Linked DNA regions of Homo sapiens: region 2 is reported to be linked to region 1. Evidence: microRNA targets listed by miRTarBase, many of them from high-throughput screens and not tested one by one. Region 1 holds a microRNA gene; the other region holds the end of a gene's coding sequence.

Region 1 (3,107 bases):
AGGTTGAGCTGCTGCCTCAAGTAAAAAATTCAAGTCAGCCCTGATGCTGTCCATGTTTTTTGTAAAACTTGCTCACTTGTAAACAACGTCGGGCAGCAACTGCAGGCCTCACCCCTCACTCTTCAAAAGCGACTGCGACAGCTGCATCCCCCGTGCTCAACTGCAGGGCGCGGCACTCGCCTATGCTCTCATGAAGCCCCGTGCCAAGGGCTTCTCCGGGACCCCAGATACCCACCAGACCCTACAGGCCTGCCCCGTGGCCCTGGGAATGCTTGGCACCAAGGTCCCACTTCCCACCTCAGTCAAGCACCTGCCTCCCAGGCCTCACCAGTCTTCATCTCAGCCCGCCAGGTCCTCTCGAGCCCCTGGAGTGCCCTGTGAGCCACAGCTTATAAAGCAGATAGGACCAGCTCTGCATCAGACCCCTGTGTGCAGGCCCAGCTCCCCGACCCGTAAGCAGTTGACCTCAGACCAGCTGCTTAACCTCTCTGAGTCAGCTTTCTTACCTATAAATGAGGATAAAAGCAGGATATTCACAAAGCCCAGAGCTAGAATGCCTCAAGCAGTGTGAGCTCGGGGAAGAAGTCCACACAGGACACAAAGCCCAGAGCTGGGAAGGCCTCAAGCAGTGTGAGCTCGGGGGAAGGAGTCCACACAGGAGCAGTACCTGTTGCAATATTTTTATTACATGCTGGGAAGATTAAATGAGATAAGCCGTGTAAACACCAGGCACATAGAAAGCATGAAATGATACCAGGTGGTGGCATGGTGTTACTTTCATTATTAATAATTTGAAAAAGCAGATTAACAGCTCAGGCCCTGCTGAACTCAGAGCCCCCATGAGGATAGAGGCTATAACGTAACAGACATGAAACGTCCTGAAAGCTCCACGTGCAAAGTGAGTTGCTTATGCCTGCGTAAACTTCTTGTTCTTCAAAAGATATGCTGTTTTTAAAAGGGACTGACTGGTGAAAAAACCTCACACACAAGGCAGTGCCCCTTTGCCAGGTCCTGTAAACACTACCGTGTCCTGCCCTCGGCTCCTGGGGTCAGGAGCTCTCAACGAAGGTGTGACCCTTGTGCCCAGCGTGCAGACTCCAGGGGTAACTGCTTGCTTCTGAATCTCCTTAATGGAGCTTAGGAATGACACGCTATGGACGCTGACTGTCCAAGCAGAAACAAGGCCCCCTTGGGGGCTTTCTAAAGTTAGTAAATACATGTATATATAATATATATACACACACATAGGAGAACGCGAATGACTGGGCACCCAGGGTCTCTGTGGGGAGCCACATGGCCCAGCAGAGAACACAGTTAGCATCACAGAGTCCAGCCGTCCCCTCCCCACGTCAATAGGACAGTCCCGCGCTTTCTTCCAGCCGGCCTGGGGCATGTCAGGAGGCAGGGCCTGTACTGCAGGCTCTGTGTTCTTAGACAGCCTTTGCAGGGGGCAGAGGTGCCCACTGCCACATGGGCACACACAGGAGGCTCACCACGTTTCTTCAAATGCAGATGACAAAGCAGCTTGAGTAACACAAATACGGCCACACTCATCTGAGGATTGCTGCTGTGTTTTCTAACTGCATGGCCATGACCAAGCAGTCGGTTTTCATCCAGGTTGGTAGTCAGGTTTCTGAAAGCGATGGCAGTCGCCTCAGGGCTGACACGGGGAGTCTGCTTGGCACACCTTCACCCTCGTTACATTTTCTGGACAATGGTAGGGAACATTCCTTACTCCGCTGGCCTGTCAGCTTGGCTAAGCCTGGTGCAAGTGGCTCGCTGTGGGTCCGCGGCTCCATTACGGGGGAGTCTGGGTCATCTGTGAGCCCAACAGCGCCCTGCAGGCACAGACAGCCCTGGCTTCTGCCTCTTTCTTTGTGGAAGCCACTCTGTCAGGCCTGGGATGGAGGGGCAAGAGGCTTTCAAATTTTTCCTTATTGTTGTATATTTTTTAAAAAACTATTTATTTTAATGGTGAAATAAGTTCTAAAAGTTTCTGGACTTGTAGGTAAATGAATAAGAACTGAGTGTGGTTTTTAATCATGTTCACATTATTGGTGACGGTGCGGCTTAGTTTCATTTAGTGACTAAATTCTAGCCATCCCTAGACTGATGGCCACGAAACGTGTATTTCGAGTTGAAATACATTTATTTAACACACATGCACACACAATTACACGTGCACACAGGAAGCTTTAGCAAGTACTTCTCTGACCCCATTCCCTAAACACGACTGGGAACGAGGCTGCCGCTGCCCACACGGGCCCTGAATCTGACAGCATTCAAGGAGACCACGGAGGAACCGTGACAAAGAGCTGGTAGCCACCGGCATTTCAGATGAATGCAGCACCCTGGGCAAGCACAGTGTCTGCGTCTCCCCCACGCTGAAATGATTCCTAGTGTCCTAGACTGCCTGGCTTCACATGAGAAACACTCTGCTTAAGTAACTACTTCATCACTCAAGGTCCCAAAGAATGCTGCCCACCTCGGTCAGCCTTGCTTCTAGAAACCGAGGATTCTGGGTTTGGAGGCACCCCAGCTCTTCCCTGGGAAGTCATTTTCCTGAATAGATCTGACTTCCACTTATTTTCCTATCATTTCCCATCTTTTCATACATTTAGAAGGCAAAAAAAGTTCATCTTTCTAGTGATTCCAGGAGCTCCCTGGCCCATCCACAGGTGGGTGAGCTCCCACCCAGGTCCAGCAAGTCAGTGACTACAACAGAGGACACAGCCTTCCAGTGGACACGAGGACCTCAGAGGCCACCTGGCCAGGCCCCATCCACGGATGTGTCCCTGCCCAGGTGCCAGCAAGGACTGACTAATACCTGACCCAGGGCCAAGCTATCCTGTGTCCCATACTCGGCCCGTAGAGCCATCAAATCATCTGGGCCCCGACACACTTGTTTCGTACCTTTCCCGGTCATGATACAAAACATAAGCTGGAAAGGGTGCTCTTCACCTAAACAAGGTCAAACACAGGCACTACATCAGGCACCCCATGTTCCCCCTATATGCCCCCCACACTGCCCAGGTGATGGCAGAACCCAGGTCCTCGGGCGCAGAGCATCCAGGGCCCAGGGCCCACAGGGTTTTACATGGTGAAAA
Region 2 (3,066 bases), not on the chromosome of region 1:
CAGGAGAAATGCTCTCATATGGAGACAGGCAAGAGGTGGAAATCAGAGGGTGCTCGCTTTGGTGTGTTGAGCTGATCCGGGATTGTCTTCTGGAGCTTATTGAACAAAAGGGTGAAAAACCTAATGGAGAGATCAATTCCATTCTTCTGGATTATTACTTATGGGACTATGCCCATGACCATAGGGAAGATATGAAAGGAATTCCGTTTCATCGCATACGTTGCATATATTATTGACCTCAAGTGTAAACTGATCCAAAGAAAACCCCCTGCGTTTTATATCATATCATCTGTACAGTTTTGCTTTGATATTTAGAGAACATGATCGAGGTTATAGGAAATTGATTGCCCATTCTCACTTGAAAAATACTTCCTAGGCCGGGCACAGTGGTTTATGCCTGTAATCCCAGCACTGTGGGAGGCTGAGGCGGGTGGATCATCTGAGGTCAGGAGTTTGAGACCACCTGGCCAACATGGTGAAACCCCATCTCTACTAAAAATACAAAATTAGCTGGGCGTGGTGGCACGTGCCTGTAATCCCAGTTACTTGGGAGGCTGAGGCAAGAGAATCGCTTGAACTCAGAAGGTGGAGGTTGCAGTGAGGCGAGATTAGGCCATTGCACTCCAGCCTCAGCAACAAGAGTGAAACTTTGTCTCAAAAAACAACAACAACAACAACAACAACAACAAAACTTCCTAGGCCAGATGTGGTGGCTCATATGTATAATCTTAGCACTTTGGGAGGCCAAGGCAGGAGGATTGCTTGAGGCGAGGAGTTCAAGACCAGCCTAGGCAACATAGGGAGACCCCCATCTCTACAAAAATTTAAAAATTAGCCTAGCATGGTGGCACGCTCTGTAATCCCAAATACGCGGTAGGCTGAGGCTGAGGAGGGTGGATTGCTTGAGCCCAGGGGTTTGAGGCTGCAGTGAGCCACAGTCACGCCACTGCATTCTATCCTGGGCAACAGATGGAGACCTTGTCTCAAAAAAAAAAAATTCCTGACATCGCTATGTATTCCCAACTTTATCATTTGTCTGCCTGTTTAGTTTTGACTTATGTTTTTTTTTTTTCCCCCCTGTGGACATGTAGTTGACGGAAATCGTGAAGGAACTTTAATATTTTATTTAAATTTCCCAAAACTAATCATGCCTTATGTGACTAATCTTCAGTGATAATATTTCATCTACTGATATATTTTCTTGAGGTGTGTAATTTTCAGTATACCTTAATCATTTGGTATAAAAAAGAGAGAGGTTTTTGATATATGAATGCTGTTCTTGTAAAAATCAATCTTGACACTTTATTTTAAACTTTTTATTGGTAATGACAGTGGGTTTTGTACATCATGATTTTCAATTTAGGATATCTGTCTAATTTGTTTTTTCAGAGTAACTATATTGGAATTCAATAAAAATATTCAAAATTTTTCTTAAACCTGGAATGGATTATTTCATTAAAATAGAATTTACTATATATAATTTTAAAAGGTTTACTGTAAGTTAGATTATTTACCTTCTGCTGCAGAACTCTCATTACCTGTCAAGTACTCATTTCCCACCACCCCCGCCACATTCCTTCTAACAGAATCTTGATTTTGTTAGGTATCTACCTTGTCTGCTTGCTGTGACTTCAGAAAAGTCAGAAAAAGATGCCCTTTTCCCAAGCACTTTACTGCCATCTGCTGGAAATTTGTCATAATAACCTTACAAATGACTGTGAGTGAGGCCTCCTGGAGTTGTGCACTACACAACTTGCACAACCATAGGAGTGGTCCTGTGTCTATCCCTGTCCTGTATGACTCAGGGGATGGTGATCCCATCCCCAGTTCTGGAGGTAGATCTTGTATGAATGGTTTACTATTCCTGGTCACTTTACTCTCCTTGCCTGTGATTGCTTTGATAATGGGTATATAATCTAGTTCTGGACAGTGACACTGGATGACAAGTCTGCTGGGAAGCTTCTAGAAAAGGATTCTTCACTTTTAAGAAAGAGATATAGGACAAAGTTCCCTTTTCTTCCTCTGAGCAATGCTTTTAGCATGATACCTGCTATCATGCAGGTAGCCATTTTGTGGAGCTAGAGCCCAGCTATACTTTCCATGCCTGAGCCCATCCTATCCATGGACTTCATACTTGAGATAATAAACACATTACCTTATTATTTCCAGCATCTTGAATTAGTTTTCTGTAACTTGTACCAGAAAGCATCATAACAGTTTCCAGTGTAATCTCTGGGCCTCTGCTCCTGCCACCCTTCTGGCACTTCCTGTCTTCCCTTCCCCCTTTCCCTCTTCTCCTCCCCTTTGCTTCTCTGCCCTCCTCCTTCTTCTTCCCTTCTTTCCCCTCCCCCCTCTTTTTCTTCTCCTTCTCCACTCTCTTTTTTTTTATTTTTTATTTTTTATTTTTTTAGAGATGGTCTCACTGTCACCCAGGCTGGAGCACAGTCGTGAGATCATAGCTCATTGTAACCTTGAACTCCTGGGCTCAAGCAATCCTCCCAAAGTGCTGGGACCACAGGCGCATGCCACTATATCTGGCTAATTTAAATTTTTTGTAGAGATGGGGTCTCACTATGTTGCTCAGGTTGGTCTCGAACTCCTAGGCTCAAGCAGTCCTCCTGCCACTGGCCTTCCAAAGCACCGCGTTTACAGCTGTGAGCCATGGTTTCCCAGACCCAGCTGCCTTTTCTCTTCTGCCACTGAGCATAACCTGGAATCAATCCTGGATGCCTGCATTCTAATCTAGCCAGCAGGATTGAAGCAATAAAGAAGAGTAGAAAGAAAGGGTTGAAGCCAGGTGCAGTGGCTCGCTCCTATGGTCCCAGCCACTGTGTGGTGGGGAGGAACTGAGGTAGGAGGATCCCTTGAACGTAGGAGTTCATGTCCAGCCTGGGCAATGTAGCGAGATCCAGTCTCTTAAAAAAAAATAAGGAAGAAACAAAAAGAGTTGACAAGAAAGGCTCTAGTAGCCACCACATTCCATTTTGGTTTCATCTTACTAGAATTTAGTCACGTGACCACAACTAACTGCCAAGAAGGCTAGGAAAGTGGCATGTATTATGGGCA

What was found. Region 1 holds the annotated microRNA hsa-miR-4269 (GCAGGCACAGACAGCCCUGGC, at 1,841-1,861, shown strand). A microRNA usually pairs through its seed, bases 2 to 8, with sites in the 3' UTR of a target mRNA and lowers its output. Matches are read on the target gene's strand: a 7mer-m8 pairs with bases 2 to 8, a 7mer-A1 pairs with bases 2 to 7 and ends in A, and an 8mer does both.
Region 2: miRTarBase lists QNG1 as a target of hsa-miR-4269. Seed matches in the 3' UTR shown: 7mer-m8 at 527-533.

What each region holds. Positions count from the first base shown.
Region 1 is chr2:239,303,632-239,306,738 of GRCh38, forward strand. It overlaps MIR4269 (microRNA 4269), which reads left to right and starts at 1,831; the gene lies at 1,831-1,914. The region is part of intron 2 of HDAC4 (histone deacetylase 4); the gene reads right to left.
Region 2 is chr9:83,936,681-83,939,746 of GRCh38, reverse strand. It overlaps QNG1 (Q-nucleotide N-glycosylase 1), which reads left to right. Exons shown (of 4, transcript NM_032307.5): 4 at 4-1,436. The coding sequence ends at 236. Among named protein-coding and RNA genes, the nearest start is that of KIF27, 17 kb to the right of the region's middle.